Linked DNA regions of Homo sapiens. The protein of the gene in region 3 interacts with the protein of the main gene of each other region in a biochemical or structural test. Each region holds a gene or a part of one and is shown on either strand. Other genes may lie near its edges. The genes, in order: PTPRF, PTPRU, OMG and PTPRD.

Region 1 (6,309 bases), on a different chromosome or scaffold from region 3:
CGCACGGCCACTGTGGTCATGATGACACGGCTGGAGGAGAAGTCCCGGGTGAGGCTGCAGGGCCCTGCCAGGAGGCGGGTGGGAAATGCCCAGCCACAAGGTGATACAGGGCACCTTCTTCTGTGCCGCTTTCTTCTGTGGAGGAAGTCGCTCAAGTGATCCCCAGATGCTATTGTTACTGGGGGTATTATGCTCCCCAAATACTGGGTGTTTCTGGGATACAGCATGTTCCCCACATGCTAGTGGGTTCCTTAAGATGTTAATATGTTTCACCAAATGCTGTCATTTTCGGAGAATGTTAATGTGTTCCCCAGTTGCTGGCGTGTTCCCGGGGTATTCATGTGTTCCCCAGATGCTGGAGTGTTCCTGGGGCATTAACACATCTCCTAAGTTAATTAGTGGAAAGAGCTGCTGTTATCTGTTTTTGGACTGCAAAGCATTGACTGGAACGTAAAATTTACAGAGCTTGAAAATGGCACATAAACGTTATGGGTAAATTTGGCAGAAAATGTGCCTGGTGCGATCTGGCGTTGAATAAATAATTTTCAATTATGACCCTTATTCCACTAGCTAGGGCAGGGCGGTGACATAGCTTGAGGACCTGATGTGGCTTGTGGAGGACAGGGGGCAATGGATCTGAGAGCTCAGGGCTGGGGGGCTTTGTAGCCAGAAAGGCTACAGCCAGGGAGTTGACCAGCCTCCACCCTGCTTCTGCCCGTCTGAGCCTGTGGGCTTCCTTCAGCCTGCCCTGCTCATCCTCCTGCAGGTAAAATGTGATCAGTACTGGCCAGCCCGTGGCACCGAGACCTGTGGCCTTATTCAGGTGACCCTGTTGGACACAGTGGAGCTGGCCACATACACTGTGCGCACCTTCGCACTCCACAAGGTATAGCCTTTCCCCAGTGCATATCTCTTACCCAGACACTGTAAGGACAGTGGCCTGGGTGTGGTGTGCTGGGTCGGGGGGAAGCTGGAGCCTGGGTGTTGGAGGGTCGGAGGCTCAGGTGTGTGAGTGATGTGATGATCCATGTTATGGGAACAGTGCTAGGAGCTTCAGGCTACTCTGTGTGGCTTCTGAGTCCCATGGGGAAGTGGCGGGTATGGCCTCAGCATCAGGTCATTCAGTCCTGAGTCTATGGCAGGTAGGCTCCTAGTCGCCAGTATGTCCCCACTTTGTCCCCCAGAGTGGCTCCAGTGAGAAGCGCGAGCTGCGTCAGTTTCAGTTCATGGCCTGGCCAGACCATGGAGTTCCTGAGTACCCAACTCCCATCCTGGCCTTCCTACGACGGGTCAAGGCCTGCAACCCCCTAGACGCAGGGCCCATGGTGGTGCACTGCAGGTGAGAGGGTACAGTGCCACCCAGAGGGGTGGGTGGGGTGGGAGGTGGGGGCGCCTGTGCCTCAAGCTGAGCCCGTGTCCTGCAGCGCGGGCGTGGGCCGCACCGGCTGCTTCATCGTGATTGATGCCATGTTGGAGCGGATGAAGCACGAGAAGACGGTGGACATCTATGGCCACGTGACCTGCATGCGATCACAGAGGAACTACATGGTGCAGACGGAGGACCAGTACGTGTTCATCCATGAGGCGCTGCTGGAGGCTGCCACGTGCGGCCACACAGAGGTGCCTGCCCGCAACCTGTATGCCCACATCCAGAAGCTGGGCCAAGTGCCTCCAGGGGAGAGTGTGACCGCCATGGAGCTCGAGTTCAAGGTGGGGCTCGGGTGGGCCTGCTTGGCTCCAGGGCCTAGACTGGGTCATGCAGATGACCCCCACCCCCACAGGAAGCCTGGCCTGACCAATCCCTGCCTCTCAATAGTTGCTGGCCAGCTCCAAGGCCCACACGTCCCGCTTCATCAGCGCCAACCTGCCCTGCAACAAGTTCAAGAACCGGCTGGTGAACATCATGCCCTACGAATTGACCCGTGTGTGTCTGCAGCCCATCCGTGGTGTGGAGGGCTCTGACTACATCAATGCCAGCTTCCTGGATGGTTATAGGTCAGCATGCATGTCACTGCCCCACCATGCCCTACAGGGGCCTAGGCCTGTGCCTGGCTGGTGGGGGTGGGCAGCAGAGTAGGGCCAGCCTAGAAGACCAGAGAGGGCTGGGTAGAGCAGTGAGGACTTCCTGGAGGAGGGGTGATCTGAGCAGGGCCCCAAGGGGCTAGGCAGCCTAAGGGGAGACTCTAGGGGCAGCAGCACCTCCAGCATGTCCAGTCTTATGTCCACCCCAGACAGCAGAAGGCCTACATAGCTACACAGGGGCCTCTGGCAGAGAGCACCGAGGACTTCTGGCGCATGCTATGGGAGCACAATTCCACCATCATCGTCATGCTGACCAAGCTTCGGGAGATGGGCAGGGTGAGCCCACCCTTTCCCCCAGGGCCCCTGTCATACCTGGGAGAACACCAGCCACCCTTGGGGGAGCTGCCGCCTATGTTACTGTCTCCTTTGACACCCCAGCTGCTTGTCAGCATGGCCTCAGGCGCCCGTTATTACTACCTGAGGCATCTGTCCCAGAATCCTGTGAAGCCTGGCACCCCTCCCCTATTCCTTCTCACCTGATTATGGGGGCCCGACCCTCTGTCCACAGGAGAAATGCCACCAGTACTGGCCAGCAGAGCGCTCTGCTCGCTACCAGTACTTTGTTGTTGACCCGATGGCTGAGTACAACATGCCCCAGTATATCCTGCGTGAGTTCAAGGTCACGGATGCCCGGGTGAGTGAGTGCATTGAGTGTGTCCATAACGCTGCCTGTCCACACGCTGGGTGGATGGCTGCCTGCATGGTACCTTAGCTCAAGCTTCAGAAATCTGAGGCGGTGGGTGGGTATTAGGGTGTGAGCACATCTCCCCCTGTGGCCTCGGGTGCAGTGACACAGATGCATGCCTGTATCATGGTACTACCCTGGTCTAGTCCAGAGGGGTGGCTGCCTAAGGCACGAATTCTAATCATGTACCCCACCCACCTTTCCCAGGATGGGCAGTCAAGGACAATCCGGCAGTTCCAGTTCACAGACTGGCCAGAGCAGGGCGTGCCCAAGACAGGCGAGGGATTCATTGACTTCATCGGGCAGGTGCATAAGACCAAGGAGCAGTTTGGACAGGATGGGCCTATCACGGTGCACTGCAGGTGGGACTGGCCCCCTGGAGGGCTGGGGTGGGTGGGCCTGAAGGCCTGGCAGACCCACTGCATGAGGCAAGCAGGACTCCTGACCCAACTGTGTTTCTGAGCAGTGCTGGCGTGGGCCGCACCGGGGTGTTCATCACTCTGAGCATCGTCCTGGAGCGCATGCGCTACGAGGGCGTGGTCGACATGTTTCAGACCGTGAAGACCCTGCGTACACAGCGTCCTGCCATGGTGCAGACAGAGGTAACGCAGACCAGGCTGCAGGGCCAGGGCCTTGGCAGCAGCGCTGCTGGGAACCCTAGGCTTTAGCAACAGTTTGATGCCCACAGGCATGTGCATTCATTCATGCTGCCAACCTTTCACGTGGCCTGCGATAGGCATGGTGGTGTGTGCTTATGGTCCTACCTACTTGGGAGGTTGATGTGGGAGAATCACTTGAGGTCAGAAGTTCGAGGCTGCAGTGAGCTATGATTATACCACGGCACTCCAGCCTGGGTGGCAGAGCAAGACCCTGTTGCTGAAAACAAAACAAAACAAAACAAAAATGCTGCAACATTGCCTGTGCTGCCTGGGGGCTCAGGGGATTGATGAGTAAGATGTGTTCTTTCATTCGGCAGCTCTCTGCTGAGCCCCAGTGGTGTGCCTGGCTCTGGGCAAGGTTGCACAGAGCAATCCTTATGGGGTGCCCAGTCAGGAGCAGAGAAACATGATTGGGATGGCAGATGGAAGGCAGGTAGATGTGGGGGCCTGAGAGAATGACAGGAGAGAGATGAGCCTTCAGAGGCTCTTTCAGGCTCCCCCGCACACTGCCTGATGTAGCTGCCAGGGTCCAGCACCTGCTCTTGGCCAGCAGAGGCTAACTCCATGGCTGCAGTGTGAGTGTCAGCTGTGTAGTGGGGGTGTCCACTGGCGCGACCCACACTGACCAGCCCCCTATCCTGGCAGGACCAGTATCAGCTGTGCTACCGTGCGGCCCTGGAGTACCTCGGCAGCTTTGACCACTATGCAACGTAACTACCGCTCCCCTCTCCTCCGCCACCCCCGCCGTGGGGCTCCGGAGGGGACCCAGCTCCTCTGAGCCATACCGACCATCGTCCAGCCCTCCTACGCAGATGCTGTCACTGGCAGAGCACAGCCCACGGGGATCACAGCGTTTCAGGAACGTTGCCACACCAATCAGAGAGCCTAGAACATCCCTGGGCAAGTGGATGGCCCAGCAGGCAGGCACTGTGGCCCTTCTGTCCACCAGACCCACCTGGAGCCCGCTTCAAGCTCTCTGTTGCGCTCCCGCATTTCTCATGCTTCTTCTCATGGGGTGGGGTTGGGGCAAAGCCTCCTTTTTAATACATTAAGTGGGGTAGACTGAGGGATTTTAGCCTCTTCCCTCTGATTTTTCCTTTCGCGAATCCGTATCTGCAGAATGGGCCACTGTAGGGGTTGGGGTTTATTTTGTTTTGTTTTTTTTTTTCTTGAGTTCACTTTGGATCCTTATTTTGTATGACTTCTGCTGAAGGACAGAACATTGCCTTCCTCGTGCAGAGCTGGGGCTGCCAGCCTGAGCGGAGGCTCGGCCGTGGGCCGGGAGGCAGTGCTGATCCGGCTGCTCCTCCAGCCCTTCAGACGAGATCCTGTTTCAGCTAAATGCAGGGAAACTCAATGTTTTTTTAAGTTTTGTTTTCCCTTTAAAGCCTTTTTTTAGGCCACATTGACAGTGGTGGGCGGGGAGAAGATAGGGAACACTCATCCCTGGTCGTCTATCCCAGTGTGTGTTTAACATTCACAGCCCAGAACCACAGATGTGTCTGGGAGAGCCTGGCAAGGCATTCCTCATCACCATCGTGTTTGCAAAGGTTAAAACAAAAACAAAAAACCACAAAAATAAAAAACAAAAAAAACAAAAAACCCAAGAAAAAAAAAAAGAGTCAGCCCTTGGCTTCTGCTTCAAACCCTCAAGAGGGGAAGCAACTCCGTGTGCCTGGGGTTCCCGAGGGAGCTGCTGGCTGACCTGGGCCCACAGAGCCTGGCTTTGGTCCCCAGCATTGCAGTATGGTGTGGTGTTTGTAGGCTGTGGGGTCTGGCTGTGTGGCCAAGGTGAATAGCACAGGTTAGGGTGTGTGCCACACCCCATGCACCTCAGGGCCAAGCGGGGGCGTGGCTGGCCTTTCAGGTCCAGGCCAGTGGGCCTGGTAGCACATGTCTGTCCTCAGAGCAGGGGCCAGATGATTTTCCTCCCTGGTTTGCAGCTGTTTTCAAAGCCCCCGATAATCGCTCTTTTCCACTCCAAGATGCCCTCATAAACCAATGTGGCAAGACTACTGGACTTCTATCAATGGTACTCTAATCAGTCCTTATTATCCCAGCTTGCTGAGGGGCAGGGAGAGCGCCTCTTCCTCTGGGCAGCGCTATCTAGATAGGTAAGTGGGGGCGGGGAAGGGTGCATAGCTGTTTTAGCTGAGGGACGTGGTGCCGACGTCCCCAAACCTAGCTAGGCTAAGTCAAGATCAACATTCCAGGGTTGGTAATGTTGGATGATGAAACATTCATTTTTACCTTGTGGATGCTAGTGCTGTAGAGTTCACTGTTGTACACAGTCTGTTTTCTATTTGTTAAGAAAAACTACAGCATCATTGCATAATTCTTGATGGTAATAAATTTGAATAATCAGATTTCTTACAAACCAGGACTCTGTCTCAGCTGTTTCTGGAACCAAAGAGTCTGGGCCAAATCAGTAGCTAGGATGGGTTCTGGAGATTCCCTGCTCCTGAGGAGACGGGGAGGGTACCCTAAGTATTTGTGCCAGTGTAGGCTCCTGGCATGGCTACCCACTTTCAGAAAGGAGTGGTTATAAACCCTGAAAACCAGGCCACCAAGAGCCAGCCAGGCCAGAGCCACCAGTGCATGTGAAGAGCACCCTAGGCCGGGGAGCATACCCTTTGCCTCTCTTTCCCTTTAAGATTCTGTGGGTTGCACTATCGGGGCATTGGGACTGCCCCTCTCCCACTACCTTGGAGGAGAGGGATGGCCCTGTGGCAGTAGAGACTGAATGTATGGAAATTGGTTAGTGAGATCTCCTGTAATTATTGCAATGTGGATAATGGACACAAAAAACAGTGTGTCCATCTGGCCCCTGGACACACAGCTGCATCACCCACTGAGCTGTGCAGCTGCTCCACTGGTGAGCAG
Region 2 (7,412 bases), on a different chromosome or scaffold from region 3:
TGTGAGCTAGATTTGGACAAACCTGGCTTTATGTCCTAGCTCTGCCATTTTCCAGCCATTTGATTTCGGACAAGTCACCAGGCCTCTCTGTGTCTTCACTTTCTTACTCTTAAAATGGAAGGAATACTAGTTATCTGTTTCAAGATTGTTGTGAGGGTCAAGTGAGATATTATCCACTTGAAGCATTTAGTACAATGCTTGGCACATGGAAGCATTTGATAAATATTATCGGGGGTTATTGTGATTAAATGAGAAATATCACACATAAAACCCTCAGACTAGGGTCTGGCTTATAGTATGTGCTCACTAAATGTCTGTACTTGTTTTTATTATTAGAGAAAGTTGGTGTCCCATGGTGGGGGAAAGGCTTGGCCCCACATTTATGTGCCAGCACACACACGATGACCAGTCCTGCTTACCCTTTTCCCCAGTGACACATAGGCTTACTTGAACTGGGAAGTACAACGTAACCTTCTGTTGTAAGACTCCCTAGGTGACATTGAGATGTCGACATTCTCTTCTTCACCAAATTGGCTCCTCTGAATTTCTGGGGAGCCCAGTCAGGAAGCCTGAAGAATCATCCAGCAAGTCCTCCTCCTTGGGGCTGGACTTTAGCCTCCTGTGCATCCCAATAGCCCTCACTTTTAGTCTAGGCCATCTGGGTTCTTGCAGGGGCATAGTTTGAGAACTACTGACTGAGGGGTTCAAGTCCAATTTCCTGGACTTGCATTCAAGATTCTTTGCACTCTGACTCCCACACTGCATTTCCAGCTTCATCTTCTCCTGTTGGACCGTGCATAGCCTGTGATCCAGCTGCATCTGATACCCGTCTTCCCCAGTGTGTCTTGTGCCTTTATTCAGGCCACTCCTTCTGCCTGAAATGCTGTTCCCTGCCTCGGAAACTCCAGGTTCAGATGTCATTTCTTTGATGTTTCAAAACTCCCTAGGTCATCTGCTGCTGCCTTTGTGTTTTCCCTGGAGCTGTGTTATGGCCTTTAGTACATCGTCTCTTATTTATTCCCCTCCAGGCAAGACTGGAGCCATGTTTGGTTTATCTCCATAACACCAGCACCCGATATGAGCCTGGCACAGGGTAGGTGTCATAAATATTCCATGAGTTGCAGGTAATTGAATTTCCTCATGGCCTAGAACGGTCTGTGGTGCCATCTCCTTTTCCCTAGATTTGGGCTGGTCACTCCAGGCCAGGAATTTCCTTCTTCCTTCTTCTCTCAAGGATTATAGAAGTCTGTGGTCTTTTTTTTTTTTTTTTTTTTTTTTTGAGACAGAGTTTTGCTCGTTGCCCAGGCTGGAGTGCAATGGCGCGATCTTGGCTCACTGCAACCTCCGCCTCCCAGGTTCAAGCAATTCTCCTGCCTCAGCCTCCTGAGTAGCTGGGATTACAGGTGCCCGCAACTACGTCTGGCTAATTTTTGTATTTTTTTTTTTTTTAGTAGAGACAGGGTTTCACCATGTTAGTCAGGCTGGTCTCAAACTCCTGACCTCGCCTCTGCCTCCCAAAATGCTGGGATTACAGGTGTGAACCACTGTGCCCGGCTGAAGTTTGTGGTCTTTTAAAAGTAAAGCAGAAAGTCCTCTTCTCATCTGTCTACCTGTTGCTTGTGTTCTCTTTCTCCCTCCATTATAGTCTCTGCCATCTTCCCCTGCACAAAGGGCAAAGGGATGTGGAATCAGTCAGATCTGGGTTCAAATCTAGGGCCCGCCGTCTATTTACTAGCTGTGTCACCTTAGGCAAGTGTCATATGCTCTCTGAACCTCAGTTTCCACACCCGTAAAATGGGATCACTGGTAAAACTCCTATTTTGAGGCTCTCTCAAGAGCCCTCTGCAAACAGCACCCTTGGTTGTTTCTTCTGTTCACTGGTTTTCTCTCCTTGAGTTTCCTTTTCTGGGTGGGCCTCTCTGGCTCCTCTCTGCTCCAGCGTCTCTGTATCTTAGTTTCTTCCCTAAGGTTTCCCCTTGGTTTCTTCTTGCTTCTGCCTCCCTCTCCCTATTTAATTATCTGTGTCTAATTCTTGCCTGCTGTGTCTTTTGGTCCCTTTCCTAACTCAGTGTGGAGCTCATCAGCTCTCACAAGAGAGGAGACCAAGAGCCCAGGAACTCTCAACCCAGCGATACCTCCTCCAGCCCCAGGGCAGCTTCAAGGTGTGTCCATCTCAGCATGAAGCCAGCTAGGAGGGGCAGGGCACAGGGAGGGCCTACATATACCTTGAACTCCTACGCTTTGTTCAGTGTCACTGCCCAGTGGTCAGACCCATCTGCCCATGGCTTTCCCTACTTCAGCAGTCTTTATAGCTGGAGCTGTAAAAAAAAAAAAACAAAAAAAAAAAAACCCAGAGATCAGAACTTATTACTCCTTATTACTCCTCTGCTTAATTACTCCACTTCAGTGGCCTCCCATTAATTACTCTTAGGGTTGAACCTCAAGCCCCTTCCTTGCTCATAGTTTCTTGCCTGACCTACAGACCCTGCTGACTTGTCTAGCTGCACCTGGCTCCCTTCTGCCCCTGACTCACTCCATGCCAGCTGCCCGGCTTCCTTGCAGCTGCTTGTACCCACCAGCTCCTGCCTTTGCACAGGCTGTCCCCTCTGACTGCAATGTTCCTCTCCACTGATTTGCATGAGGTTGGCTCCTTCTCATACTTCAGGTCTCAGTTCAAATGTCACCATGTCACTTCTATAGCAAAGCCCTCTTGGACCACTTATCTAAAGGAGATGCCCCTTCCCTATGTTCTTTATCATTATACTCCCTCGTTTCCTTTAGCTTGCATATCTTAGATGGTAATGATATATTTATGTACATGTTTGCTGTTGGGCTCTCCTAATAGAATGTAAGATTCATGAAGGCTAGGACCATTTCCCTTTCATTCATTCCATCCAGTCAGTATTTATTGAGCATCAATTACGTGCCAGAGGCCGGGCGCGGTGGCTCACGCCTGTAATCCCTGCACATTGGGAGACTGAGGCAGGTGGATCACCTGAGGTCAGGAGTTCCAGACCAGCCTGGCCAACATGGTGAAACCCTGTCTCTACTAAAAATACGAAAATTAGCCGGGCGTGGTGGTGGGCACCTGTAATCCCAGTTACTTGGGAGGCTGAGCCAGGAGAATTGTTGGAGCCTGGGAGGCAGAGGTTGCAATGAGCCAAGACTGCGCCATTGCACTCCAGCCTGGGCAACAAGAGTGAAACTCCATCTTGAAATAAAATAAAATAAAATAAAATAATAAAAACATGCCATATACTGGGCACGGAAATACAAGATGAGTCTTTTCCCAAGGGAGCTCATTTCTAGAGGTGGAGACAGATAATGAACTCATCATATAGCCCGCACTCTATTTGAAATTGCAACAATTCCCCTTCCCTTCCCTGTCCCCCCACCACCCCCAAATTTCCTGGTGTATGAGACAGTGATAAAGGACGTACACCAGAGGGTTTGCTTTTTTGTTTTTGTTTTTTTGGTTGTTTACTGTTCTTGTCTTCCCACTGGAATGTAAGGTCCATGAGAGTAGGGAATTTTTGTCTGTTTTATATCTCTACCCTGGCCTATAGTAATTGTTGAATAAATGAATAGACCCCAATAAATATTTGTTGAATGAATAGGTGTCCAGATGGGAGGAAGGTCTCAGCCCCTATTCAATTCAAACCAAACAACTTTGATTCAAATCTCGGTGCTGTCAAATACTGTTGCATAACAGTATTTATGCAGTATAATTATTGCATACCTAATATATGATGATTAAATGAGTCCATGTGGGTTAAACACATAGAAGGTACCTGGTCTTACATAGTAATGAGCAACGAGTTTGCAGATCATAGTGCGAGGGCTCGTTCTGGGTAGAGGCCCAAATACATTTAACCTGTGTAGCCAGAAGGTAGAGTAGGACCAGTGAGGGCTAGTGAGGGAGGTAGACTTGCACGTCATGAAATGAAAAACTTTCTAAAAGCCGGCGTTTCCAAAGCCCCAACAACCGCTCTTGGCCAGGTGATGAGCGCCCTGTTCCTGGAGGTATGTAGAACACGCATTTGAAGGCGCCAAGGTACAAGGGATTCAGGCATCGGATGGGACAGAGGCCGGGTGTCCCTGGGTCACCGTCCCTGAGAGCGCTGTACGGGAGCTAGGCGTGGGCCATGAGCGTGCTCGCCTGGCAGTGTTGGTGCCCGGTCCGTGGAGACGTCCGTGGGCGTCCAGACCCAGCCGCGGGGCCTCATGGCGGGGAGGATGCGGGAGCGGGGGAGGGGCGCGCCAGGGCTAGCGGGCGGCCGGACCCGCTGCAGCACCCGCCGTGGCCAGCAGGGAGCGCCGCGAGACCGCCGAACCCGCGGCCGGGCCTGACGTCAGCGCCCCGCTTGCTCCGGCTCGCGCTCTGGACTCGGCGCCAGTCCCGCTCCGCGCCGCGCCGCTCCGCTCCGGCTCGGGCTCCGGCTCGCCTCGGGCTGGGCTCGGGCTCCGGGGGCGGCGTCCCCCGCGCCGGGCCCCGGGACGGGCGGCGACGCTCCAACCATGGCCCGTGCCCAGGCGCTCGTGCTGGCACTCACCTTCCAGCTCTGCGCGCCGGAGACCGAGACTCCGGCAGGTAAGCGCGCGGCGGCCGGACCGAGCCTGCCCCGCCGAGCCTCGGGGCCCGTGGCGTAGCTCGGAAGAAAGTGTGAGTGTTGAGTGACCGGGCGTTACGAGCGTGCTCCCTGTGTGTGTCTGAGCGTAGGATGGGCGATTGTGTGCCCGGGGTGTTGCGTGACTGCGAATGTTGTGTGTCCGTGAGTTCTGTGCGCAAGAAAAGGTGATGTGTGTCGGCGAGTATGTTGGGGGTGAATGTTGTGTGCATCGAGGCATTGGGTGTGCGCTGAGTGTCTTGTGGGTCTGCCAGTGTGTAGTGTTTGTGTGGCCAAGTGGGTTGTGTGTGCATCTGAGTTTGGTTGTGTTGCGGGAGTTGTATCTGCTAATGTGTTGCATTTGTTTGCATTTTGTATGCCTGGCCGGGAGTGCTGTTTGTTTTGTGTCTGCGAGTGGGTTGTGTGTTTGTGTTATGCCTGTGGCCAAGGGTGCTCTCTGGATCCCGCCTGAGTGTGGATCCGGGAACGCGTGTGTGGCGTGTGTGCTTTTGAGATCCGTGTACATGTGTGAAGGCGTGGGAACGGGTCCGGAACGTGTGTGTCCGTGCGCTGTGTACGTGTGGGGAGTGTCTAGGGTATGTGGTGTGTGCTGCCGGGGGCCGCGTGGGTCCGAGTGAATGCCAAGTGTGCCGGGAATGCGTGTGTGGGAGCGAGTCTGGAACGGATGTGAGTGTGTGCGAATGTGTCCGTGTGTGCTGGCTGCGCGTCCAGGAATGTTGCGAGTGTGGAGCGCGCCTGGGCCGCGGCTGCGAGTGTGCCCTGGTCCCGGGGCCGCCCGAGGGGGCGGTGGCAGGACGTGTGTGCGCGCGTGTGCGTGTGCGCGTGTGTGGCGCGCTGGGCCGGAACAAGTTGTCGCGGCGGCGCCCCCTGGGCTGCCCGGGTCGGGCAGGGCCCGAGGCTCAGGGGAGGACCGGGCCCCGCGGCCGCCGCCTCGGGCATGTCGGACTGTTTGTTGTTTCGCAAGTTCCGCGCGGCGCTGGCGGGCGGCTGATCCGAGGCGGCGCCGGGGCTGCGGGGCGCCCGGGCCAGCGGGCCCCAGCGAGGGGCCGGCGGGCGGGCAGGGGAGGGCCGGACCGGCGGGCGCTCCTGCGGTGGCCGGGCCGCGGCTGCGCCCCGGGCGGCCGGGCGGGGGCTGTCCCCGGGCTGGGCTGCGACGTCCGGGCGCGGGCAGGGCCTGGCTCGCCGCCGGGGGACGGCGCCCCCTCCCTTGGCGCGCAGGACGCGCGGGGGACGCCCGGGCCTCCCGGGACACTCCCTTGGTGGAGCCTGCAACTTTGTGCGGCCTCCCGGCCGGCCGGGACCGCCAGGTGTGTGCTTGAGTGTGAGCGTGAGTGTGAGCGTGTGGCTCCGCGCTTGTCTGCTGTGTGGTCGCGTTCTCCGGGTGTGTTTCGGAGTCTGGTGTCTTTGGTGTGCGTGCGCGTGTGTGTGTGCGCGCAGCTGAATGTATGTATACGGAGCCTGTGTTTGTGTGTCCGTGTGCTCGTCGGAGTGTGGACGGTGTGTCGGATGTGTGTGCGTGCGCGTGTTCCACATCCCACCCTGAGGCCTGGGATCCTAGACCGCGGCCCCTTCCCGCGGAGTTTCGGGGCCCTGCTCCGGGTGACCTCCCCCGCCCTCGCCACCGGCGGGGCTGCTCCGCGGGCTCCGGGTAGCCGGGAGACGCCCGGGGCGGGATCCGAGCCGAGACACGTGCTGGAGCGGAGCCGCTTCCTCACGGTCGCCAGCCGCAGACAACTGACCTCCCCGGCATCGCGTTCGCGGCCCTGCTGCTGGCTCCGGTGTCTCGGGCCGGAACTCCTGTGGCTCCAGCGTTCGCGCCGGCCACTGGCCAGCGCTTGGGCCTCGCCCTGCAGCTCCGGGGCCATAGGGCACAGCTTTAGCTTTGACCTCCCCGTTCCCGAAAGGACGCCCAAGGCGACCTCCCACCCCATCCTCCCCAACTTCTCCCCCATGTCCTGCGGCAACTTTGCCTCCCTCTCCCACCGTGAAATCAAACCCGCGGGGTTCTGTATGCGCCCCATCCCCGCTCCTACCACCATCGCTTTGATTTCAAGAACACTCACAAGCCCCAAGCCCTGCCAGCAGGAGGACTGTCAGGAACTGAAGTTTGGGAGTGAGGCCTAGAGCAGGTTACTCCCATTCTTGATGCCTCAGTTTCCTCTTCTGCCTCATAGCCATCATGATAATGGTGTATGGCACTTTTGGTAGATACCAAGTACCTTGTAAAGTAAGGCTCTGTCTGTGAGTGCCAGGGAACAAAAAATGGATTTGAGAGTTGTTGCAAAGCCCCAGACAGAGGCTGTGATTTAAAGCTGGGGTATTAGGTGTCAAATTCTGCCTCTGCTACTTGCTATTCATGTGATGTCTGGCAAATCACCTCACTTGTAAAGTTCCTGGCCCCCTTTGTTATTCTTAGAGATGAACTCAGAAGCCCAAGTAGAATAGATGTGATACCCCTTGTCCCCAGTCTGGACAGAGTCAGCCCAGCTCCCTGAATGGCTCCGGAGCTTCCGGGTAGGGGCGGTGTGTGATGCCTTCTCAGCCTTGCAAACCTGGTAGTTATTTATTCTGCTGTGTTCTTGCTATTTTGTCCTTTTGGTCGCAGGAGTTGTGGACGGCAGGAATGAGGGAGTGGCTGCCCAGTGGTTTCAGGTTGGGCAATAAAGGCTTGTCTGGGCATCCCTCCCTTTTCCCTGGGGCTAGGGGAGGGGACTTAGCAGGAAGCAGTGACAGTGGCCGAGGTGGGGACGCTGAGCTCCTGGACAGCCTGCTGCCCAGCTCTGG
Region 3 (7,914 bases):
CACTAAAACTGCTTCTTTACATGTTTTTAAATTTTTTCATTATGTTTTTAACACTTTTCTTACATGCAAAAAACACAACCGTTAAACTTTTCTTATTAAAATGCAAAGCCTAGTGTCTTCTAGCTTTTTGAAGAGCTTTTGTCCATTATATAATCTGTCAAGTAGCCAAGAGTTCCTCAGAAGCAGGACATCATTTAGATTTAAAACAATTATGGCTTGTCTGTAAAATAATGTTGTAGCATAACCATTCATGGGATGGCAGCTACGATTTTACTTCAGTAAAATATCCTTGGATACTACCGCCATTTTATTTACCTTAAAGATTTTACCAAGGTACCCTAGAACAAAAATGGTGAGGTCATTTTGATTCTGCTAAAGTTGGTATGACTGGAAAGCCAAATGACACAGTTATGAGCATAGACCTTTTATTTTCCAGATGTTTGACAGTGTAAACATACATAAAATACATATTAAAGTTTAGATGCTTTATATTTTGTGCAATAAATTGAAGCCTTAAAACATTTCATTTTTTTTATAAAAGAAACTCATTAGTTTACTTAATTAAGACAGTAAAATAGCAGCAAGTACCAAGACATTGTGCATTTCTTTTATTTAAGACAAGTTACTTCATTTACATCAGAGTTAGAAATGTTAAGACTGGCTTTCTTGAATACTTAAATATAGCTCGAATCACTGGTTAGATATGGACATATTTTCCCAACTGTACATCAGGGAGGAGTGCTTTCATTAGTTTCAGAAAATGCAGACCCTCAGACAGCCAGCATGACCACAACATTGAGCAATAAGAGAAATGAAGCATTTACTTTCCAAGCATTTGCCACAGAAGGTAATGGAGTCTTTACATTTGTGGTTGTCTCTTCCCTCCATAAGTTAAGGGTTGTGCTTTGTTGAGGCATTTCAGAGAAATTATTTGGCATGCCACTAGTGATACTTAGGGTCATGGGTGTTGGGGATGATTTTGTTGAGCTAGTGAGGCTTGTGTTTGTGACCATTCCATCTTGGAGATGAATAGTTAGAGTTGCAGCTGCTGCTTCATGTGAATTGATAGTCTCTGTGGATGTATCTTCTGGATAGGGCACAAAAGCCTTATCAGTGCTAGTAAAGGTGGTGTCTTTGCTTAGAGTGGCACCAAACGTTGTTTCCTTTGTTCGATATTGTTTGGGTATTTTGGTCACTTTGGGTTGAGTTACCACACTCAGAGAGTTAATGGTGTCCACTGTCTGCATCCCACTTACAGTGAATAAGCTTGAGGTAAATCCAGAAGGTGTGGGATACATGTTATGTTCCTTTAAAGATGATATTTGGGTAGAACATGGAGTCCCTATCACATGGGCTTTTGTTTCCATCATCCACTTCAGTAAGTAAGTAATGTTTTGTTTGTGGTCACATGACCACCTGTTATTGTAAAGGGTTATCTCTTGCAACTGAAAGAGTTGGTCAAAAGATTGGTCTGGAATGAATGTGAACTTATTGTTGTGCAGGTAAAGATGTGTGAGATTTGTCAGGTTTATTAATGTACCTGGAAGAATTTGTGTCAAAGAATTATTAGACAGGTCCACGATATGTAGTTTGGAGGGCATGTTGGTTGGAACTGTCCAAAGTTTGTTACTACTGAGGTTGAGAACCTCGAGACTTCTTAGTGTATTTTTAATGAGGACAACCTTTTCCAGCATGTTCTTAGAAACATCCAGATATTTAAGATTCCACTGATAAGCAGTATCAGATTTGTCAAGAAGTTTAATGTTGTTGTTAGCAGCAGACATGTTCCACAGAGACCGAGGTAAGTGAGCAGGCAGGCTTTCAAGCCTGTTGTTTGAAATGTCCAGGGTCCTCAGATTGGTATATTGGGTTAACTGGTTATGCAGATCAGTAAAGTGGTTATAAGACAGGTTTAAATGTATAATATTCTCTTGCAGTCCAGATGGTAATGTAGACAAGTTTCTGCCTGAACAGTCCACATGCCTGTGCCTCTCTGTGCATATACATTGGAGAGGACAAATGCATAAAATACCAGGTGTGAGAAACAGAAGGATGAACAGGCAGAGAGACATTTTCAATATCTGATATTCCATCAAAGCCTAGAAACAAACAGATACACCCTTCTTTTAATATGCAAATACAGTTTAGGCATCTGCATGGGTCAGTTAGCATTAGGCAAAATTTTCAATAAACCTCGTTGTTGTCGAGTCCTTTTATAATTGTTCCAGTGATTAAACTAACAAAGCTCCCCTTCATTTATAGTCCAAATGCTTAATCCTTCAATTGGGCTATGTGGTAGAGAGAGACTCTCTCCCTACTCTCTCCTGCATTTTCTCCTTTATTTTCTCTCTCCCTCCCCCCTTTTCTAACCATATTCTTTCTTATTTATCTTTCTAGAGCCTTAATATGATAAAATAGCATTCTTTGCAAATAAATAGTTGCAGTTGTAGGCTATTACTATTTTTGATGATATGCTTTCTTACTCAGATGAGAAAAAATGGCTGTCGTGTCTTTTTTTTTTAATCTCTGCAGTAATGTAATTCAATGTGTGTATATAGGGTAGATTTTATTTAGATATTAAAGCAGTTCTTCGAAATTTTATCTGTATGTTTTTAGGATAAATATATCTTTGTAAAAAGCACTTGAAAAATCCAGACCAACACAGTACCTATAAACCTCACATTTTATAAAGTGATTTTTTTCTGTATATTTCAGTGCCCATTTTAAAGGAAAACAATATGTATATTTACAGAGTGACTGAATGTATAAAAAATATCCCTCAACTGACACTGCAGCAAATTTCTGGTGCATGCACTTGCTATTGAATATATATTTAATCCTAACGTTGACTTTTTCTTAAAAGAAAAAGGAAAAAGATTCCAAAGTCAGCCTTTTACTGATTTAAATAACATCTTACCGTGGTGTCGTCTTCAACATCAGCATCTCATTTTCTCTGGGAAACTTAAAGGTCGTCTTGTTCTGTAGAGTCGGAACTGTTTCTGGCTGTGGGCTGTGCTTGCCTGCTCAGCTGCATTGTGTTGCTGTGAGCTGAAGCTCTGCAACCACCTGATCAGTACCACATAGGAGGACTGCAGAGCTGTCGCTGGTGCTGACTCAAATTTATGGCAAGAGGTGCACACGCAACAAAATGGACAATTTTTTAAAAAATTTGTGGCATCAAGCGTACCTATATATCTGATTTGCTATAGGATGGGATACCTTATGCATGAGAGTTGGCCCTTACTCCTTTCTATGTATTTGTCTGAGATTGGGTTCCATATTTTAACATTTGCCTCATTAAGAATCTGTGAATTTTTAAAATACCTCTACTCTTTATCCTTTTTACATGTTGAAAATAAATTTGACCTTCCTCATGGATAGTTTTCTATGATATTAGTCCCACTATTTTTTAACTCCTGCCTTTTTATATTCCTTTCTAAAATTGTATAATTTTCATGTCACTTTTTTAATATTATAAAAAATCTGTTTTATGACTTTTATGTCTTCCCCCAACATGGTGATTATTATGTTTAATCAGCTTTTCAAATTTATCAACCACTTAAGTGTTCCGTCTTCCCTTTTAGGATGTATAGAAGTACTGAAATACGATTATTTTTTCTTTATCTTTCTGATACAATGATCATTTGACCAAGGCTACACACAAGCCAGGATACATTTGGAAATTAGCATCTTATACTTCAGATTATCAGTTCCTATGTAAAATAAACATGTTTTATTTTATATATTTGGAGTTAAAGTTTTTTTTCTTTATGCAACCTTGGGTGGTAAGTGGATATGAGTATTGTTTTTTCCAAAGACATTTTTGGTGCTGTATGAATGACCATTTATTTGATTTTATGTTTTAAGAATAGCAGTATCAATTTAGGTGATTTCAGAGTGTTGCACATTTCATCTTTCTGGGAAAGTAGTTTATAGTTTTAAAATTACATGAAATGATATAAAAGGAAAATTTTTCATCATGAGTTTTATAAAGTGAGATCAGATTTATGATAAATTTTGCTCCACTCTTCAGTGGACTGCTTGTGTAAATCTGTTAAAACACAAATCTGATTTCCAGAATGGCAAGTTTAAAGAAAGCAAATAAAGTTACGGTATTTTCGTTACCAAGTGGCACCATTTAAAAACGAGTAATATTTAGCATGTTATGTGTAAGGAAAGTCTCTTTATGCCTTGTTACTAAATCGTTTGTTTTTCTCTAAATTATATTAGCATTATTTAGATTATACCACAAATAGAATTTGTTGTATTAAAATTTGAAGTTTATTTTCTTACAAGAGAAACTATACTCTAGGAGCCACCTTTTGTATAAAACTAATGTTCCTCGAAAAGTATCTGCATTTTAAGAGTCCGCAACATAGAAGTTTATTGTTGATTGGGTGCTTTATTGCCACTTTACTTTGAGGGTTCAGTTGAACTCTCAATTGGATTCTTACTGTGGATTTAGGAAACCAGCCATCAATCATAGTGCTTAAAATAATGTGTTAAAAATACTACATTCAGCAATATTGTGGAAATAGGGAATGCATTGACATTTAGAGTTCTATTTAAGCTCATATATACACTGCTGCACTTCTAAAGATGTGACTGAGGGTCAATTTACCGACCACTTAAATCTCTTAATTTTAGGAAACCTCATTAAGTCAGTGTAGAAGTAGAGTTATGCATTTTCATTACACTTAACAGTACTTTTGTTTGAAAGAAAAGACATGTTACTTCATTAATGGATTCAAATGAATTTGGGTTTAGGCTGTATCAAGTTTAGTTTCTGTTGTATATAATAGAAAATTCCAGTGCAATAGTAGTGGCAATGTTTCTCATTTCAAGTTTGGGACATACCAAATTGCTTCATATTATTCAAAGATTATTGTAAAATTCTCAAAAAGAAAAAGGGAGATCATTTCAATATATTTGAATTCTAACAATCTCTTACACTGGGTGCAGCACACCAGCATGGCACATGTATACATATGTAACTAACCTGCACGTTGTGCACATGTACCCTAAAACTTAAAGTATAATAAAAATAAATAAATAAATAAAAGAAATTCTCATGAAATAAAATAATACTGTATTACTGTTACTCAAAAAAAATATTTTTTAGAGGCATAAGTATGTGTTACAACTTATTTTAAATATTATTCAGACTCATTACATTTTCTATTAGGCTGTCTAGGTCAGTAATGATAGTTAGGCAACTTTTACATTCTAGATTAAGCAGTAAATTAATTTACGTATTCTTTTGTGTCCTAGGATATATTACCCCAACATTGTGAAAGGTATCACAAAGCATCTGCCAAGGAATAGCTATCCCACGCTAATCAGTGGTTTCAGTTTTCCATTATTATAGGTAACATTTGCTATGCTTGAGAGTCAGATATTGTTTATTTTTGGTAATATGGTTGGCTATTTAGACTGATTTTCCTGCTGAATACAACTGAGAGTACTCAATAAAGTACTTTAAAAGCATGAAAGAAATAACAACATAGAAATTACCAAGTCAAAATCCAAATGAATCAGTTTCTTTGCCCACCTCCCTACTCCTTTTTTTCTTTATGCCACTGGCTTGTTGCCAAAACTCAGTCAATTATTTCCTAAAATGTCTCTCATCTTGGAGTTTTCTCTTTGACTCTTTGGGAAGATTTAATTTGTTCTTCTGTCCCCCATATTTTCTATAAGTGATTCCTCATATCATTGACATAATTGCTCATTTGCATCATCTCACAATAATTTCAAAATAATACCAGTATTGATTGCTACAATTAGATTATAGACTACCGAATAAAGTTTAAAATTTGTTTGTAGCTCTGCTTGCTTTATTTTACTAAAAGTGTATAGTAAATTCTGTGTTCTAATGCAATGTGAAATAATTCTTTTCTGTGTATTTTTATATCACCAACTTGATATAAACTTTGTTTCAGTTTTCAGCTTTTCAGGATCACAAGTCAAAATTATATATATAACAATGTATATTCAGATAAATCTTGCTTCTCTGTCTTTTCCATCCTATTTCCTTCCTTCTGCTATTAGTAACTGTTTTTATTAGTTTTTCGTTGTATCATTAACATTTCTTTTTGAAAACCTAAAAAAAATGTAAGCATATGTATGGTATGTTCTTATCCCCCCTTCTAATATAAAAGGTGACATATATACATACTGTTAGATAACTTGTTCTTCTTTTCTTACTGTATCTTGAGTATCACTCCATATCAGTATATAGGTATCTGTATGATTCACTGTTTGATCCATAGTACTCCATTTGGGAATGTACCATGGCTTATTCAACCAGTCCCCTATTGGTGGACATCTGGGTTTTTCAGACTTTTGCTGTTACGAATAATGCCACAGTGAATACCCTTGTACCTAAATAATTTTATATGTTTGCCAGTAAATCTTTGAAAAAGATTCCTAGAAGTAGGATTGCTGGGTAAAAGGGTAAATGCATTTGGAATTTTTCCAGACATTACTAAATTCCTCTCCATTGATTATACCATTTTGCAGTCCCACCAACAGTGTATCATGGTGTCGAGTTCTATACAGCCTCACTGTATACTTTGTTGTTGAACTTTGGGATTTATTGTCCATCTGATAGGCAAGTATCTCCATCTAATTTTAAATGCATCTCTGTAATTATGAGGGGGAGTATATGTCTTTACATATGTTTAAAGACCATTTAAATGTTTTCTCCTGTAACTGTCTTTTTAATGTTTTGCACTATTAAAAGTTGTGTTTTGGGTCTTCCCCTTCCTGCCCCATATTAGGAGCATTTTAAATTTTAGAGGTATTAGCACTTTGTCTTGATTTAAGTTTTAATTTTTTTTTCCAGTTTGCCATTTGTCTTTTGGCTTTATTATGGTGAGGTGTGTGTGTCTGTGTGTAATGCGCACTTGCATGTGTGTGATATTTAAAAGTTTCATATAATTTGATTTCCCTTTTTATTGCCTCTGGATTTTGAGTCTCAGCTAGGAAGGTTTTTTCCCGCTTCCAGATTATAAAGGAATTTACTCATATTTTCTTCTATTACTTGTATAATTTCATGGTTTATATTTAGAACTCTGGTCCTTGGTGTTCCAATATAGTGTGAAGTATGGATCAAATTTTTTCTTTTTTCCAGATGTCTATCCAATTGTTCCAATGCTTGTTTCCACTGATTTGATATTTATTTCTGGACTTTTTCTTCTGTTCCATTGATCTGTTTGTTTAGTCATATACCGGTACCACAGTGTTTTAGTTATAGGTTCCCAAAGGTGCTACTTTACTTTTTGATCAGAATTCAGTAAGAACAACAGTTAAAGATCACCCTCATCTAATTCATTTGTGTCCCTCACCACTGACACCAAATAGAAGACTTATGTGATATATGTATGTTTCAGTGCATGATGTAGGTGCTCTTTGGTCCTATATTAGTGAAAAGAGTGTTGAACCAATAGTCAGGGAGCAAACTCAGCTTTTAATACCACTTCTAAGCACATCACTTACTTTCTCTGGTCCTGTTTTCTCAGTAGTTAACAAACAAAAGGAGTTGAACCAAATGGTCTTCAGGGTTGTGTCTGACTCTGGTTAATGCTATTTTGGTTAAGAGCACCACTAGTATGTGGTGTGAACTTTAATCTACCTTTTATTCCCCTGTGCCTTATTCTTTTGCAGTATTCATGAAATAAACTTTCTCTTCTGGATCTTAGTTCTTTAATCTTTTCTCTAAAAGATTTTTCTTTGTTCCAGCATTTTCTTCTGTCCTGCATTTATTAGTTTGTATCTCTTCCTGCTGATTAAGCAAGGATTGCCACTGTTTGGCTGCTCAGCTTCCACTGACCTCACTGGGGAAAATTACATGCAGTTAAATGTGAATTATTCTTCCCCCAGCAAAGAATTTCTTTAAAAAAAATAAAAGGAAAA
Region 4 (7,025 bases), on a different chromosome or scaffold from region 3:
GATGAGGTTTTGCCATTGGCCAGGCTGGTCTCAAAGTCCTGACCCTCAAGTGATCCACCTACCTCCCAAAAGTGTTGGGATTACAGGCGTGAGCCACTGTGCGTGGCTCAAGAATAAACTTTAGAAGAGGCCTGTTATTTTATATTAGCCCAAAGCCAAACTGATCACCTTGACTCAAAGACCAAAGAGGTTTGATAACCTCTTAGAAAAATAAAACCACTGGGAGGGCCAAGTTTTCCTTCATAAAATAGTCTAATGTCTGCTGTAGCTCTTAGCAAAGTTAATCAATCAGGCCCAATGTTCTATCTGAGATCTCGGTAACTGTCTCTCTTTATCCACTGAGGCCATACAGAGAAAAACAGAAATTAAAGCCACTCAGAGAATACTTATTTTCAAGCCAGTAGCTTCTGGCAAATATAAGCCATTTAAATACCCAAGGCCCTGTAACAGTTTTATTTTTTAGCTTTGTCTTGAACCATCCAATCTTACACAAATTAAATACTCTTTTGAGACCACTCTACCATACTAGCTATTACAAAGAAGTGTCGTTTTTCTATTCTCAAAACTGGGCATGGGGGAGACATTGTTCTATCTCACATAGAGAAGTCTTCAAGTCATTCCCATACAAATTAAAAAGAAGGGGTGTTAATGCATTGTTCTGCTCAAAATGATTAGTTTTTCAGATGTCCATGCTTGTTCCTTTTCAGATATCTATCATCTGTTGCTTTGAAGCCCTAAATCTCAAAAATTAAAATTCATACCATCTTTGTTCCTTCTTTGTTTTTGTCCTTCTCACCTCTTTGCACCAGCCCTTCCCTCCTGCCCTATTTCCCTCCTCAACCAAACTTACCTCCTGTCTGAGTGATGACTTGTATGTCACTTGAAAGGGGACCATCTCCAATTGAGGTAAAAGCCAGGACTTTGACAGAATATGTTTTCTGGGGCACTAAGTTGCCAATAGTAGTGATTTGGCTGTCAGCTACATTGTGTTTCATCCAGTTGTTGACATGTTGAGTGGGATCCATTGTATAATAAACTCTATATCCTTGGATCTGTCCATTTGGCTCTTCAGGTTCCTTCCACTGTACCAAAATGGTGGTCGAACTCAACATTCGTGCCTGGACATCCCTCGGGGCACTGGATGGTGCTTGCTCTGAGGTTTGTGTTAGCACAGGTTCGCTGGGAGGCCCCCGCCCAATGTTATTGACAGCAACAACCCTGAATTCATAATCCGAGTAGGGACTTAGTCCAGCGACACTGTAGCGTGTGGTCGCCACCCCATCAATTTCTTTGTAAAGTTCCTCAGAGTTTTTAGGTTTATGCTGAATTATGTAATAAGAAACAGGCTCAGGGTTCCCAGAGTCCCACGTCAGTGTGATGCTTGTAGCTGTGCTCTCGGTCACTACAGGAGTTCCTGGAGGTTTGGGTAAGGCTTGGATGGGGGAAGATAAAAGACAATGACTACCCATCATCCCTATAATATTTCAAAAATCTATAAACTCTACTATGAAAATGACAGGATTATGTATCTACTGAAGATTTAATTAAATGAAATTATAGCAAAGAGTAGTTTTCTGAATGGCCAAGAAGGACAGGAAAACATTCATAGGTGACACAAATCCTGCTTTCCTAGAAGGGCTTGATAGCATATTTTTAGGCTTGTATCCAAATCCTCTACTTATTAGCTAAGTGATCCTGCACGCATTTCTTAACCTCTCTTTGCTTTAGTTTCCTCATGTGGAAATGGGAAAAATATTATTATTTAAGTCATATTATACAGCTGTATGTAACTGTATTTCATGGGTTTGCTGTGAAGACTAATGAGCCAATCCACTAAGATTCTTAGAATGTAACTGGAACCCACAAAAAAACCTTAGTATTAGCTGCAGTTATTACTATTATTATACCAAAAGCTTGGCCAATTAGCCCCTTGCCCCAATAAATAAATGGTATAACTGAAATACCGATAAACATTGAAAAGAACAAAATGTGGAATACATTGAAATGAAATTAAATTGCGATGAAACAATAACATCTATATTCTGGTAAGACACAATACCATTACTAAAAATTTTCTTGTAAATGAAAAACCAAAAATTTTAAGGTGCAAAAGAATAGAAATTTCAAATCAATGCTTTATTCTTAATATTTAAAAATTGCTGAAGGAAGTAAATTAAGGCACATTCACCAATCACTTTTTAAGGTATGTTATGGTCATATTAATATGCATTCTATATTCCACATCAGAAATATCCAATGTAGCTACATGACAAATATTTGCAATAAAATCCATCTTTTTAGAGGTCTAATTCTTTCTTTTTAGCAGAAGAATACAAATCAAAATACTACTAATTAAAAATATAAACTGTCTGCTTTGCTGACCTCATATTCAAGTGCCTTATTCTAAACAATGATTCTGAAACGCAGTGCTATTAGGGTAGGAAGGGGCATTCTAATAGTTGACTCTTTAGAGAAATCTCAAAGGGTAACATTCATATAATCAGCCCATTAGTGTCCCTGTTTCCTTGCCAACATAAAGGCAAGAAGTATAACACCCCCTAGAATGGCAGCTTTTCAAGAGCAGCAAACTTGTACTTCTGACTTACTGTAAAATTGTGAATGCCTAGAATGCTGCCTGGCACTCGGTAGGTTTTTAATGAGAATCGTTAAACAGTTAACTGAATAAATGAGTCAGCACCCATTCACCTCATTCTCTTCAACCTGTTCTTTTGTTTTGATTTATTTTAATTTGCCATTAAGATTCACTCTTATGTTTTATTTGTTTATTTTTGAGGTGGAAAAGACAGGGAAGTGGCAAGAGTCAGGAAAACAAAGATGAGAAGGTGAACAAAATATTAGTTTAAAGTGGCCCCTGCTTTTGAATTCTTAAAGGTCTTCAGCAAGCCTTCAAATATTTAAAGCTGAAATGGTAATTATAAAAAAGGTGATTCAATATTTACACACTACTCAAAGAACTACAGAATGATAGTATTTTGTCAAGGGAATTTACTGAAAATAATAATAAAATGAAATTTGTTTAAATATTCTGACCTGGCATTTTTCAAGGCTGTGTGTGCTCCAGATTTCCCCTACATGTCTTTCTGAACTTTCAAAGCAAATACAAATATTGCTAATTAAAGCTGTGCTCACTGATATTTAGCTGACATTATTAGTTTCACTAAGTCACATTTATTGTACAGTACAGGTTTTATGTCTGTAATGTACGGATAAATACATGTGTGCTTATTATATTAAGGTTACACAATATAACATTATTTCACGATTGTAAATGTTGACAATGTGTACCTTTGTTCTCATGTCATTAGTTTTATATAGCATATATTTGATATATACGCTTGGTTAGAGATGCGATACCAATTATAACGTGTATTGCATTTTCTAAGATCACCCCCTAGAATGGCAGCTTTTCAAGAGTAGCAAACTTGTACTTCTTACTTGCTGCTGAATTCCAAATGCCTACAACATTGCCTAGGAAAAGAAGATAATTTGTGTTCATTTTGCAATAGTTCTAGCCATCTGCAGAAAACTTAAGTTGCCCTATGTCTGACTCAATTTGCAAACACTTTCTAGAATTCTATAAACACTAGGGGAAAAAAAAACGGTACCCTTACATGCTTGTACTCTTTCTCTTTAGTTCAAAAATATTCATGTAATATAGTACTTTGGTTATATTTAGTCTGTTTTTTAAAGGAAAGAATATTCCTTGAGCACTCATCTATGCAAGGTGAAAGATAAAACTACAACAGAATATACTCTTACTTGCCTTTTGATTTTTAATAGTAGGGCTCACCAAAAAGTTAAATCATCTATTACTAGACTATGTTGATTTCAACTTTTTTTTTCTTCTTTTTCCTTTGTATTTAGAAATTTTAAGCATTTATTAATGCTCATATTGACTTTTCTTGGGGTTCTTATCAAGGTTCTGGTCTAGTATGTAGACTGTACACATCAGTCCCACCATAATGGTCGACCATGTGTAAAATTCCTAGTTCTGTCTGGTTAGTGCCTGGGCCTCCATGGACTGTCTTTTAATATTCTGATGATTATCTCTACATAGGCTGCCAGATACTTCCAAGAAAAAATCCGCCTATCTAGGCTTATGCATGTTATATAATACCACAGATATGATTAGGTTATACACACATTTAAAATGCTGAATAATGAATTATTTTAGATTTTCAAGGATGGGCTTTCTAGAGGCATTAGTCACTTGGCTTGAGTGTACCCAGATCCTCAAAGCATAATCCATTGAGCATACCTTTGACAGTGATCTGTGCTATTGCTTCAATGACACCCAGTGTTGACATAGCAACACAGGTGTAATTTGCTGACTGTCTTACATCATTCAGTTCTAGCACATTTCTTCCTATTGGCATATCATCTTCAGGTGTCAGATCTTCTGCCCCCAACATCCACTTTACATAAGGCATTGGTGACCCCACGGCCACACAGGTGATATTAACGCTTCCGCCTGGCATGATTTCATGATTAGTGGGTGGGATAGAGAATCTTGGTGGGACACGGCGAACTGGAACAAAACACAAGGGAAATGATAACATATACAAGGCAAGAAAAAGTGGATTATTAAACACATGACATGCACCGTACAGACACGATTCAACAATTGAAACATTGTGGATTGTCCAAAAACAAAACATAAAGAAAAACTGTGGATAATACAGACCATACAAGTATGGTGTGTGTATACACAGAATTATTTATTTAGTTTAGTCATTGATATCTTAGACACACTAATACAAAAGTTGATTCAGACCTACAAGGGCCCCACAAAAAACTATCTACAAACTAACAATACACAAACATCATGCATAAGATAAACACAAAAACATATACATGCAGGCATATAACAATGATTCTATGCAGGCATGTATATGCAGAAAAGGGGGCTGGAAGGTCACCAGCATGTTTAAGTTGAGTATCAAAACCAACTTCAGTGCTGTGCACTTCCAGTTGATGTGAATGTAGGTGTGGGACCACACTGTCACATCCCAGCCCTGGAAAACATCACCTAGAGTACACTGAAAGTGCACTTTATGTTTTCAGATTCATAGTGGATGCAGCCTCAAGACCTCACACTAACACTGGAACAAACACAGAAATGTATATACATATTGATTTACAGTCACAGAAGAAGAAACAGGCTAACACCAGTAGAGATACTGGATTGGGTCATGCAAGGCATGCACAAGATGGAATCTCAAGGCCCGTGCTAAGGATATTGAAAGAATGGCTGGAATCCAAGACAGCAATGACCGCAGAAGAAATAAGGGGGCAATAGAAATAAACGTGAAAGGGGGAGGTAAAGTATAACGATTGAAACACAGGGACTTAGGGGATGACAGGGTTGAAAGACAGAAGATTAAGCTCAAGTTGTTAAAGGTAAGGATTGCAAATTCAGAAAGGGAGCTGGGTGTTTCACATACAGGATTCCATTCAATTCATATCAAAGGTAAAACAACATAAATGACAACAAAATCTTTTAAAAGGCTTTTTATGCCCACATTCAAATTGAGGGACACTGGATCTAAAACATACAGCAGGACATGACATTAAGAGAAGAGATCATATTAAAGCAACATAACACAGAAAAATTACCAAGCAATTTCAGTTCAGTGTTCCTGCTTCAGATAATCTGCAGGTTTATGTGTGTTTAAGTAAATGTGTTTTGGATGTGATACAAGGAGAAAGTGAAAGATAAATTGGTTTCATCTGGGGCTTTTACTGGCAAAATGTCATACCATAAGAATTTGAGATCTAGAGGGTAATCTTTAGGGAGCACACCTTAAATACATTTAATAAAGATTTTTTAAAAATTATAAATAAACTGATAAGTAACCTCATAACCCCAAGAAGAAGATAAGTAATTCTGTCTGAAAACTTTTTGGCTGCTCTTAAGGTCGAGATAAACCTCCGCTTATTTGAGATGGCTCACTGCAATGGCCTCATGGGTGAATGACAGTCATAGGAGAAGAAGAGAAAGCTAAGCATGCCTCCTGCAGCCAATTCACAGAGGTTACACAAAGCAAGCAGGAGCCAGTGTAGACTCTGAGGTATCAAAGAACATATCAAGAAAAATGGAGGAGAGTTTAGTCTTCATGCTTGGGATTAGGGGAGAAACTAGAAAAAGTCATTCTATGGGCAGCAGGCATCCTTATAAGACAGAAATTAAAGGCAGGGTGGGAGATGGGGACAGTGGAGCAGGAAGGAAAGCAGGAACACTGACCAAGTTCACTGGACCTTACAGAGTTAAGTGTTACCAGTTACCATGCACCCAGGTACATTCTCTCCCACCATGCACCACAGTTAGATACCACCAGCAAGCACCAGAAGCCATGGCCAGGGCATTCTCTGCTAAAACATACCATTAACCAAAAGAAGAACACAATGCAGCTACATTCATTTCATTTGTATTCTTTGTTATTGGTTTAATTAATAGTTTTGTAAGGTGGGTAAAAAGTAAAAAACACACCAACCTTCTCGCAGCTCTGAGGGATGTAGGGGGTTTGATGCAGAACACAATGAAATGAGGAAAGGAGAAAAACAAGGGAAACACAGAGAGAGTAAAAAGGCCATATCAAGGCTTTCAACTGCTACTTGAACATCTTTATTCGCTCTAGTTCATCCTTCCTATCTCAGCTGGAAAAGTTAGCAATATCTCACAGACTAACATGGTATTAGAAACAATAGCTAGCATCATTTTGAAATTTTCCATGGAAGAAGGTACACATGCCTCATGCAGCAAGGGAGGTCACTATTGTGGAAAAAGGATCAAGGGACTTTCGAAGAATTTAGAGAAGAAATGACTTTCTTCATATTTCCCCACCCCAGACTCCATAAAAAAAGAAAGGAGAGAAAAACATCCCCAGGGAAACAAAATTACCTCTAACAAAAATTTCAAAATCAAGCTAGGTATTTTCTTAAGGGAACCCATCCTATTGTAACTTAAAGCCCTCTCAGTCTTTTCTTTAATCCCACCCCCACCC

Evidence for each region.
Region 1: the proteins of OMG (region 3) and PTPRF form a complex in vitro, tested with the Homo sapiens proteins (one study listed by BioGRID).
Region 2: the proteins of OMG (region 3) and PTPRU form a complex in vitro, tested with the Homo sapiens proteins (one study listed by BioGRID).
Region 4: the proteins of OMG (region 3) and PTPRD form a complex in vitro, tested with the Homo sapiens proteins (one study listed by BioGRID).

The regions. Positions count from the first base shown.
Region 1 is NC_000001.11:43,617,864-43,624,172, forward strand, and holds the end of PTPRF (receptor-type tyrosine-protein phosphatase F isoform 1 precursor), read left to right. Parts: coding exon 1-48; intron 49-766; coding exon 767-886; intron 887-1,184; coding exon 1,185-1,339; intron 1,340-1,424; coding exon 1,425-1,710; intron 1,711-1,816; coding exon 1,817-1,995; intron 1,996-2,231; coding exon 2,232-2,358; intron 2,359-2,590; coding exon 2,591-2,716; intron 2,717-2,974; coding exon 2,975-3,129; intron 3,130-3,233; coding exon 3,234-3,369; intron 3,370-4,071; coding exon 4,072-4,140; 3' UTR 4,141-5,803; downstream 5,804-6,309. UniProt on the Homo sapiens protein: Possible cell adhesion receptor. It possesses an intrinsic protein tyrosine phosphatase activity (PTPase) and dephosphorylates EPHA2 regulating its activity.
Region 2 is NC_000001.11:29,232,127-29,239,538, forward strand, and holds the start of PTPRU (receptor-type tyrosine-protein phosphatase U isoform 1 precursor), read left to right. Parts: upstream 1-4,395; 5' UTR 4,396-4,518; coding exon 4,519-4,591; intron 4,592-7,412.
Region 3 is NC_000017.11:31,294,239-31,302,152, forward strand, and holds OMG (oligodendrocyte-myelin glycoprotein precursor), read right to left. Parts: upstream 3,002-7,914; 5' UTR 2,918-3,001; intron 2,100-2,917; 5' UTR 2,094-2,099; coding exon 771-2,093; 3' UTR 409-770; downstream 1-408. UniProt on the Homo sapiens protein: Cell adhesion molecule contributing to the interactive process required for myelination in the central nervous system.
Region 4 is NC_000009.12:8,516,998-8,524,022, forward strand, and holds part of PTPRD (receptor-type tyrosine-protein phosphatase delta isoform 1 precursor), read right to left. Parts: intron 6,528-7,025; coding exon 6,516-6,527; intron 4,550-6,515; coding exon 4,280-4,549; intron 1,433-4,279; coding exon 851-1,432; intron 1-850.